2 linked regions of the Homo sapiens genome follow. The protein of the gene in region 2 purifies or fractionates together with the protein of the main gene of each other region. This does not show direct contact. Each region holds a gene or a part of one and is shown on either strand. Other genes may lie near its edges.

The links.
Region 1: the proteins of VNN1 (region 2) and PCOLCE2 purify together in Homo sapiens (affinity purification with mass spectrometry; one large-scale study listed by BioGRID and IntAct). This does not show direct contact.

The regions. Positions count from the first base shown.
Region 1 is NC_000003.12:142,836,973-142,840,627, forward strand, and holds part of PCOLCE2 (procollagen C-endopeptidase enhancer 2 precursor), read right to left. Parts: intron 1,935-3,655; coding exon 1,798-1,934; intron 1-1,797. UniProt on the Homo sapiens protein: Binds to the C-terminal propeptide of types I and II procollagens and may enhance the cleavage of that propeptide by BMP1.
Region 2 is NC_000006.12:132,686,499-132,690,153, forward strand, and holds part of VNN1 (pantetheinase precursor), read right to left. Parts: intron 1-3,655. UniProt on the Homo sapiens protein: Amidohydrolase that hydrolyzes specifically one of the carboamide linkages in D-pantetheine thus recycling pantothenic acid (vitamin B5) and releasing cysteamine.

The sequences.
Region 1 (3,655 bases), on a different chromosome or scaffold from region 2:
CTTTGCAGATGTGAGTAAGACTCTTCAGAAGAGGAGAGTGTCCTTTATTACCTAGGTAGGCCCTAAATGTAACCACAAGTGCCCTTATAAGAGGGAGATTTGACTAAGAAGAGGAGACAGAAGCAGCGACTGAAGTGACACACTTTGCCGATGAAGGAAGAGGGCTACAAGCCAAGGCATGCAGGCAGACTCTAGAAGCAGGAAAAGCCAAGGAAACAGATTCCCTTTCAGAGCTTTCAGAAGGAAACAGCCCTGCCGACACCTTGACTTTAGTCCAGTGTCTGGCTTCCAGAACTGTAAGAGAATACATTTGTGCTGTTTTAAGTCGCTGCACGTGTGGCAATTTGTTACAGCAGCAATGGGAAAAGAATTATCTAGGAACTTAGAAATAGGCCCTTCTCCAATATATTCATCTGTAAACCAAATTTGGGTATGGTTATGCTTAAATTATAACTACTATCTTGTATGTATTAAAACATTCTTATCAATGTAAATGTAATAGAAAATACCCTCCTTTAACTCAAATATGTCAATGAAAAACCATAATAATGCATATAAAATCAAGTGATGCATATAATCTAATTACGTTTAAGCAACAGAGTAGAAAAGGGTATTTAAATTGGCATAATGGTGACTTGAAGGCAAGCTGCAGTAATTTCAGCTGTTGCTTTTACTAATATTGTAAGTGAAGTTATGAAATATCTTGCACCAAAATACAGTTATATATTGCACCAGAATTACACCAGAAATAGTTATATATTGCAGTTATATAAATGCAGTTACATAATTACACCAGAAATACAGTTATATATTGCAGCAGAGTTAAGTAACTTGCTCAATGTCACACAGTTATTAAGTGGCAGAACTCTTGGCTCCATAAATGTTTGTTGAATAAATACATGGTGCCTTCAAGGTCCACTTAGCAAAAATTTGGATAGCAATGTGAGGGGGAGGCATAAGGCCTCAAACAGTCCAGGACAGATCTCTGATAAGGTAAAATCATTTGGGTTTGTCGTAAACTTCTGGGTCTCCTTGTCTGGATCCCCAGTATTAAGCCCCCTGGTTGTTTTTGTTTTGTTTTGTTTTCAGAATTTTCCCATTCCACTCTGATGCTTGATCTCATTCTTACAGGGCAGTGATGTATCCAGGTACCCGGCTCTGCATCTGACCCTGGGGTATCACCAGCTCTACTTGTTTCTGTTTGGCTATTGACACTCCTGTTAATGTTGCCTCAGGGCCTGGGTTGGCTATTCTTTTTTGGTGGTGCTGACTCCATGGTTATGGGACTTGTAGTGGTTTGGATCTGTGTCCCTGCCCAAATGTAATATAATCCCCAATGTTGAGGAGAAGCGTGGTGGGAGATGACTGGATCATCAGGGCGGTTTCTCATGGTTTAAACACCATCCACCTTGGCGACAGTGAGCTCTCTGCTCTCTGGTCATTTAAAAGCATGTGGCACCTCCCCTCGACCTTGCTTCTACTCTGGCCATGTGATGTGTGTGCTCCCTCTTTCCTTTCCACCATGATTGTACATTTCCTGAGTCCTCCCCAGAAGCAGAAGCCTCATGCTTCCTGTACAACATGCAGAACCCTGAGCCAATTAAACCTCTTTTTTTAAATAAATTACCCAGTCTCAGGTATTTCTTTACAGCAGTGCGAGAACTAATAGAGGACCCAATAATTTAACAAAACAACAACAACATAAAATCTTCCAGAAAACAAATGTGATTGGGAAACTGAACAAGAAACAAGTTTAGAGCCATAAAACTATTAAAGACATAAATAGGTGCTACTTACGCAGGTGGACTATCACCACAATACTTTCCAATTCTTCTAGCATCGTTGACTTCCCCGCCATTAAACACAGCCACATAATCATATCGGCAGTAGTTATCTCGCTCCACATCAAACTTCTCAAACTTTAATTCTATAAGCTTTAGAGAAAGCACAATAGAAGTGTCAAATATTAATAGCATTGTTGAATAACCTCAAATGGAATTCTTCCTCTCCCCAGATTTGGAGGATACTACGATTTTCCTTTGTAAAAAAAGTATGCATTAAGTGCTTTTTGTTGCATATTTCTTATTTAGTTAAAAAAAAAACTGTGGTATTCTTTTGCTTTTAATTGTAATCTTTCCAAAAGATCATCTCAAACTCAGATCAACTCTAGTTAGGATATTCAACTTAAGAACTCTGTTCACTTACAGCTACAAAAGTATGGGAACATTATGTAACACTAGCAACCTACTTTAAGACTATAATTGGTTTTGGAGATCTATTGTACAGCATGGTAACTATAGTTAATAATAACATATAATAAACTTCAAAATTGCTGAGAGTAAATTTTTTTTTTTTTTGAGACAGAGTTTCACTCTTGTTGCCCAGGCTGGAGTGCAGTGGTGCAATGTCAGCTCACTGCAACCTCTGCCTCCCGGGTTCAAGCAATTATCCTGCCTCAGCCTCCTGAGTAGCTGGAGTTTCAGGTGCCCGCCACCACACTCAGCTAATTTTTGTATTTTTAGTACAGACGGGATTTCACCATGTTGGCCAGTCTGCTCTCAAACTCCTGACCTCAAGTAATCCACCTGCCTTGGCCTCCCAAAGTGCTGGGATTACAGGCATGAGCCACCATGCCCAGCCGAGAGTAAATCCTAAATGTTAACACCACATTCCACACACAAACAAAATAATAACTATGTGAGGTGGATATGTTAATTACTTTGATTGTGGTAATCATTTCACAATGTATACATATATCAAAATATAATGTTGCACATGATAAATATATATGTTGCACATATAAATATAATTTTCACTTGTCAACTATACCTCAATAAAGCTGCAGAGAAAAAGAAAAAGAAAGAGAAAAACAAGATTGTAATTGGATAACTGGATGTGTGTTATAGTGGGAAAAGGGGCTACATACCTTAATAGAAGCTAATAGAAATAAAAAGTATTATCTAAGATGCTCCTTATACTACTGTATGTCAGGGAGTAGTAGTGTGTGTGAATATATGTGTAGGAGGGTGAGCTGAGTGGATAGAGTTGTTCCCCTTTTGAGGGAAGGAGACTGACATTTCTATCAGATGTAAAGAAGTCAAATTTTCAGGACCAGTTATTCAGGGAAGTGGAATTGATGGCAGTGTCTTCTTGAAGTATGTTTGAAATGTGTGATACCGTGCACGGCCTAATCAGGGTGTGGTTATTTTTGAAGAGGTTGCACAGAAGCACTGATCTACAAAGTCAGTGTTAGGTTTTTAGTATTTCTCAATTTTTTGCACTAGTACCAATAATAGTGTCCTAAATTATTCACGTGAATAGAAAATTTTGATTAAATAGGCAATCAATCATTCCCCATACAAGCAAATGTTTAAAAGAACATTTCCAACATGTGAATCAAAGGAAACCTCACTGGATTTATTATTACCTATGACAGCTGGTACCCAATCTTGCCGAGCAGCAAGTGGGCAAGAACCCTCCTTGCTACTTCAGGGAAGATAAAGGACATTAATTCCTATTAGCTAGAGAAGACTCAAACACAGTAATCCAGGTGAAGATGATAATAGCAACAGCATCACAGATGGACACAAAGGTAATTTTGGCTTTGACCATAATTTCCACACATCTTTGGACTGAACTACCTTTTAAAAAGTCA
Region 2 (3,655 bases):
TATTTCCTAAATTAGGCAACTGATTCAAGAAGGAAATTAGAAGAATCTTGAAACCTGGGAGACCTGACCATCCCAAGAGGAAGTCTCCAAAGACACTTACCTCCGATTTCCCCGCAGCAAAAGGTCCAGCTAGATCATTCTATCATGAAGCTCAAAATTGGCAAGTGTTACTCACATGGTCAGAATTTTCTATGAGTTTTTGGTAATCCCCAAGAGTTACCAGACATGTGAGAAAAACTTATTGCATGAAAAAGCAAATAAAAAAGCAGATAAAAGCAACTTGAAGGAAGCAGGGGGGAGGAGCTTCAATAAAAAATTTCCTAAATAGCCTCAGAGAGAGAAGAAAAAATAATACATGCACAAAACAACAATAAGTGTTGAAACTCCGAAGACAAGAAAAAAGAGTTCTTGGAAATTAAGAACATGTTAACAAAAATAAAAGATTCAGTACAAGATTTGGAAGATCAAGAGGAGGAAATCTCTCAGAAAGTAGAGGAGAAAAATAAAGTAGTAAAAAATAGCAGAGAAAATGTCGGAAAATTAGAGCCCTAATCCAAGAGGCAGAAGATCCCAATAATAAGAGTTTCAGAAAAAGAGAAAAGAAAATAGAAAGGAAGAAATTCTGCATGCATTCTGGGGAAGGTGTGGAATGAGGAATACACATACAAAGAATCAGGAATCAGAAGAACTTCAGAATTCTCAATAGCAACGTAAGATGGGAGGATATAAATACATTCACAATCCTGAAGAAAAGTCATAACCACCTTTGAATTCCATGCCCAGGGAAATACTTAACTAAATTTAAGAGGAAAGGCAGTTTCAGACCAGTGAGTCTCAAAAATCTTGCATCCCGATCACTCTCTTTCCGGAAACTGTTAACAACAAGAAAGAGGGCACAAGCCCAAAACAAGGAAGACGGGGAACAGAAAACAGGAAATCCACACAGGGAAGTGGTAAAGAAAAATCTTCACCATGAGGATAAAGGGAGATTCCAGGATGACTCCTATCGTATACAAGGCATGGAGAGCAGCCAGTTCAGATTAGAGCAATGTGACTAGACAGCGTTGACTACAACAGAACAAAGGAGCAAATAAAGGTAGAAGGAGAAAAACAGAGAACCTAAAACAAGGAAATAGCTAAGAGAGCATTCCTAGGATGACAGTAAAGGAAATCTCAATATGACAACTGTGCAGAATGACTAGAGGGAAACCAGTGCAGAGAAAGGTTATTATTTTTAGCTCAAGATAAACTTATGAAAATGATATTGTGGAAAAATTATTCTGAGATGCTGTTGGAAGATATGGGGTTTTAACAAAAAGTCAAAGAAAATTAACGAAATTTAAAAAAATAAGGCAATTAATAACTTTAGGAAAAACAAAGAAAAACTATAAAAGCAAAACTCTGAGTGATGTTTGCAATGACATACTGATATAAACAAAATTATGCATATTTGCTATAAAATGCTTGGAAAATCTGTGTGGCAAGATAGGGGTTTATTTCACTTTTACCTCTCTTTGTGTCTCTTCCCTTGGTTTGGAGGTAGCTTTTGGTGATAATCGAGATTTTTCAAGCATAATATATCATCACAGTTAGACTATGAAAAATTATAAATATAATATTATACCAAAATTCCTTATCTTCAATACAAAAATCCAAAATCTTCTGAAAATAAAGGATTTTTGTAACCCACTGGCACATTGGCATTAAGACCTAACTTGAATTAACATAAGGCTATAACATTTTTATTCAAGCTATTTAAGGTGAATAATCCCATGTTTTCCAATAGATATATTAATATGTTTGATTCTGGGTATTTTCCCAGACTCTGCTGGTAATATCAAGTAATATGTATTATTATCTTTAAATAGGAAGATTCCAAAACATATCTGGTACCAATCGTTTAGATGAAATATCACCGTCTAGCAAGATAAACAGAAAGCTTGGTTTTACTTGACAAAGCTAACCTACCTCACAACACTAAGAAAGAACTTCCCACAACTCTCTTTAGGTAGAGCCAAGACTCTGGAGGAGGTAAAAAGGTAGGAAAAGATTGAGGAGGCAGGAAGGAAAAGGAGGGAAGAAGAGCTAAGAGATTACTCTCTTGTTTTGTGACCAACTTTTTTTAACTTAAAAATAATACATCACAATTTATATTTTAATTTTAAAAATTTATATAGCAATATAATACCATATGAATGTCACATATATAAGGCTATATATGTTAATATAACATATGGTATATGGTAATAATTTTATGGCAATAAATGTTCTTCTACAATATGATTCATTTAATTTCCAGTTGTTGGACATTTTGTACCTGTGTTCATGATACTATTTTTCCCTCTTTCCTCCAGCACCTTGGAACACTGAGTAGGAGTAATGATTCCTTGTATATTTTATTTTATTTTGAGACAGAGTCTCACTCTGTTGCCTAGGCTGGAGTGCAGTGGCACAATTTCAGCTCACTGCAACCTCTATCTCCCAGGATCAAGCAATTCTCCTGTCTCAGCCTTCCAAGTAGCTGGGATTGCAGGCGCCTGCCACCATGCCTGGCTAATTTTTGTATTTTTAGTAGAGACAGGTTTCACCATGTTGGACAGGGGTCACAAACTCCTGATCTCAGATGATCTGCCCGCCTTGACCTCCCAAAGTGCTGGGATTACAGGCCACTGCACTGGACCTGATTCCTCTCATATTTTATGTATTTTTTCCTTTTGTAGCTCTTTCTCTTAGACCTACAAAGGCAATCAAGGCTCTCTCGTTTGTTGAGAAACACACACACACACATACACACATACACACACATTTCTCCTGACCATGAGTCTCTGTTAAACCATTGTCTTGCTTCTCTTCTTCTTGTCTCAGATAAGATTTCTTGGGGAAAAAAGTGCATTCACTTCCCTTTGACTTTTCAACCCAATATAATCTGCCCATCATCCTATCATTATGAGCTCAGAAAATTCTGCCAAAATTATACTCAAAAATGCTAATAATGGTCAACGTATTGTGTTAATACACCTCATGATTTCTTTCCTCCAAGAGTCTCTACTTCCTTGGCATCTACCAGATGTTCTCTTTTTAAATTTTCCTTTATTTCTTAATTGTATTTGCAGGTTTCTTGTCCTCTGTCCTTTCCTGCCCCAAATACCGAAGCTCCCAAAGGTTCTACTTTGTCAATAGTTCTTTACTGTCAGTACAGTCTCCTTTGTCGTATCATTCACTGTTGTTTGCTTAATTGCCCCTTGTATCTTGCTGATTTTTGAAACAATATTTCTAATTCTAGTATCTCCCTTAAGCATCAGACCAAAGTATTCAACAGACAACTGGCTGGGTCCAGCTGAATGTCTCATAACTACTTCAAAACCAGCACATCTATAACTGAACTCAGCCTCTACCCACTGTCAGTGAGTCTGCTCCTCTCTTGCCTCCTGATCTGTCAGATGCATCTCACCCACCCAGCCATTCTTGCCAGAAATCTGCCACATTCTGGACTCTCCATTCCGTTTTCCTGTTCCACATCAAATTGGCCACTGAGTTCCATTTTCTAAATATGTCTAGACTCCATGCCCTGCTTTTATTCCAACAAACACAGTCTTGGTCCAGACCCTTAATAAGACTATTTTAATAATCTAGTCTTTTGGGTCTTTGCTCCATC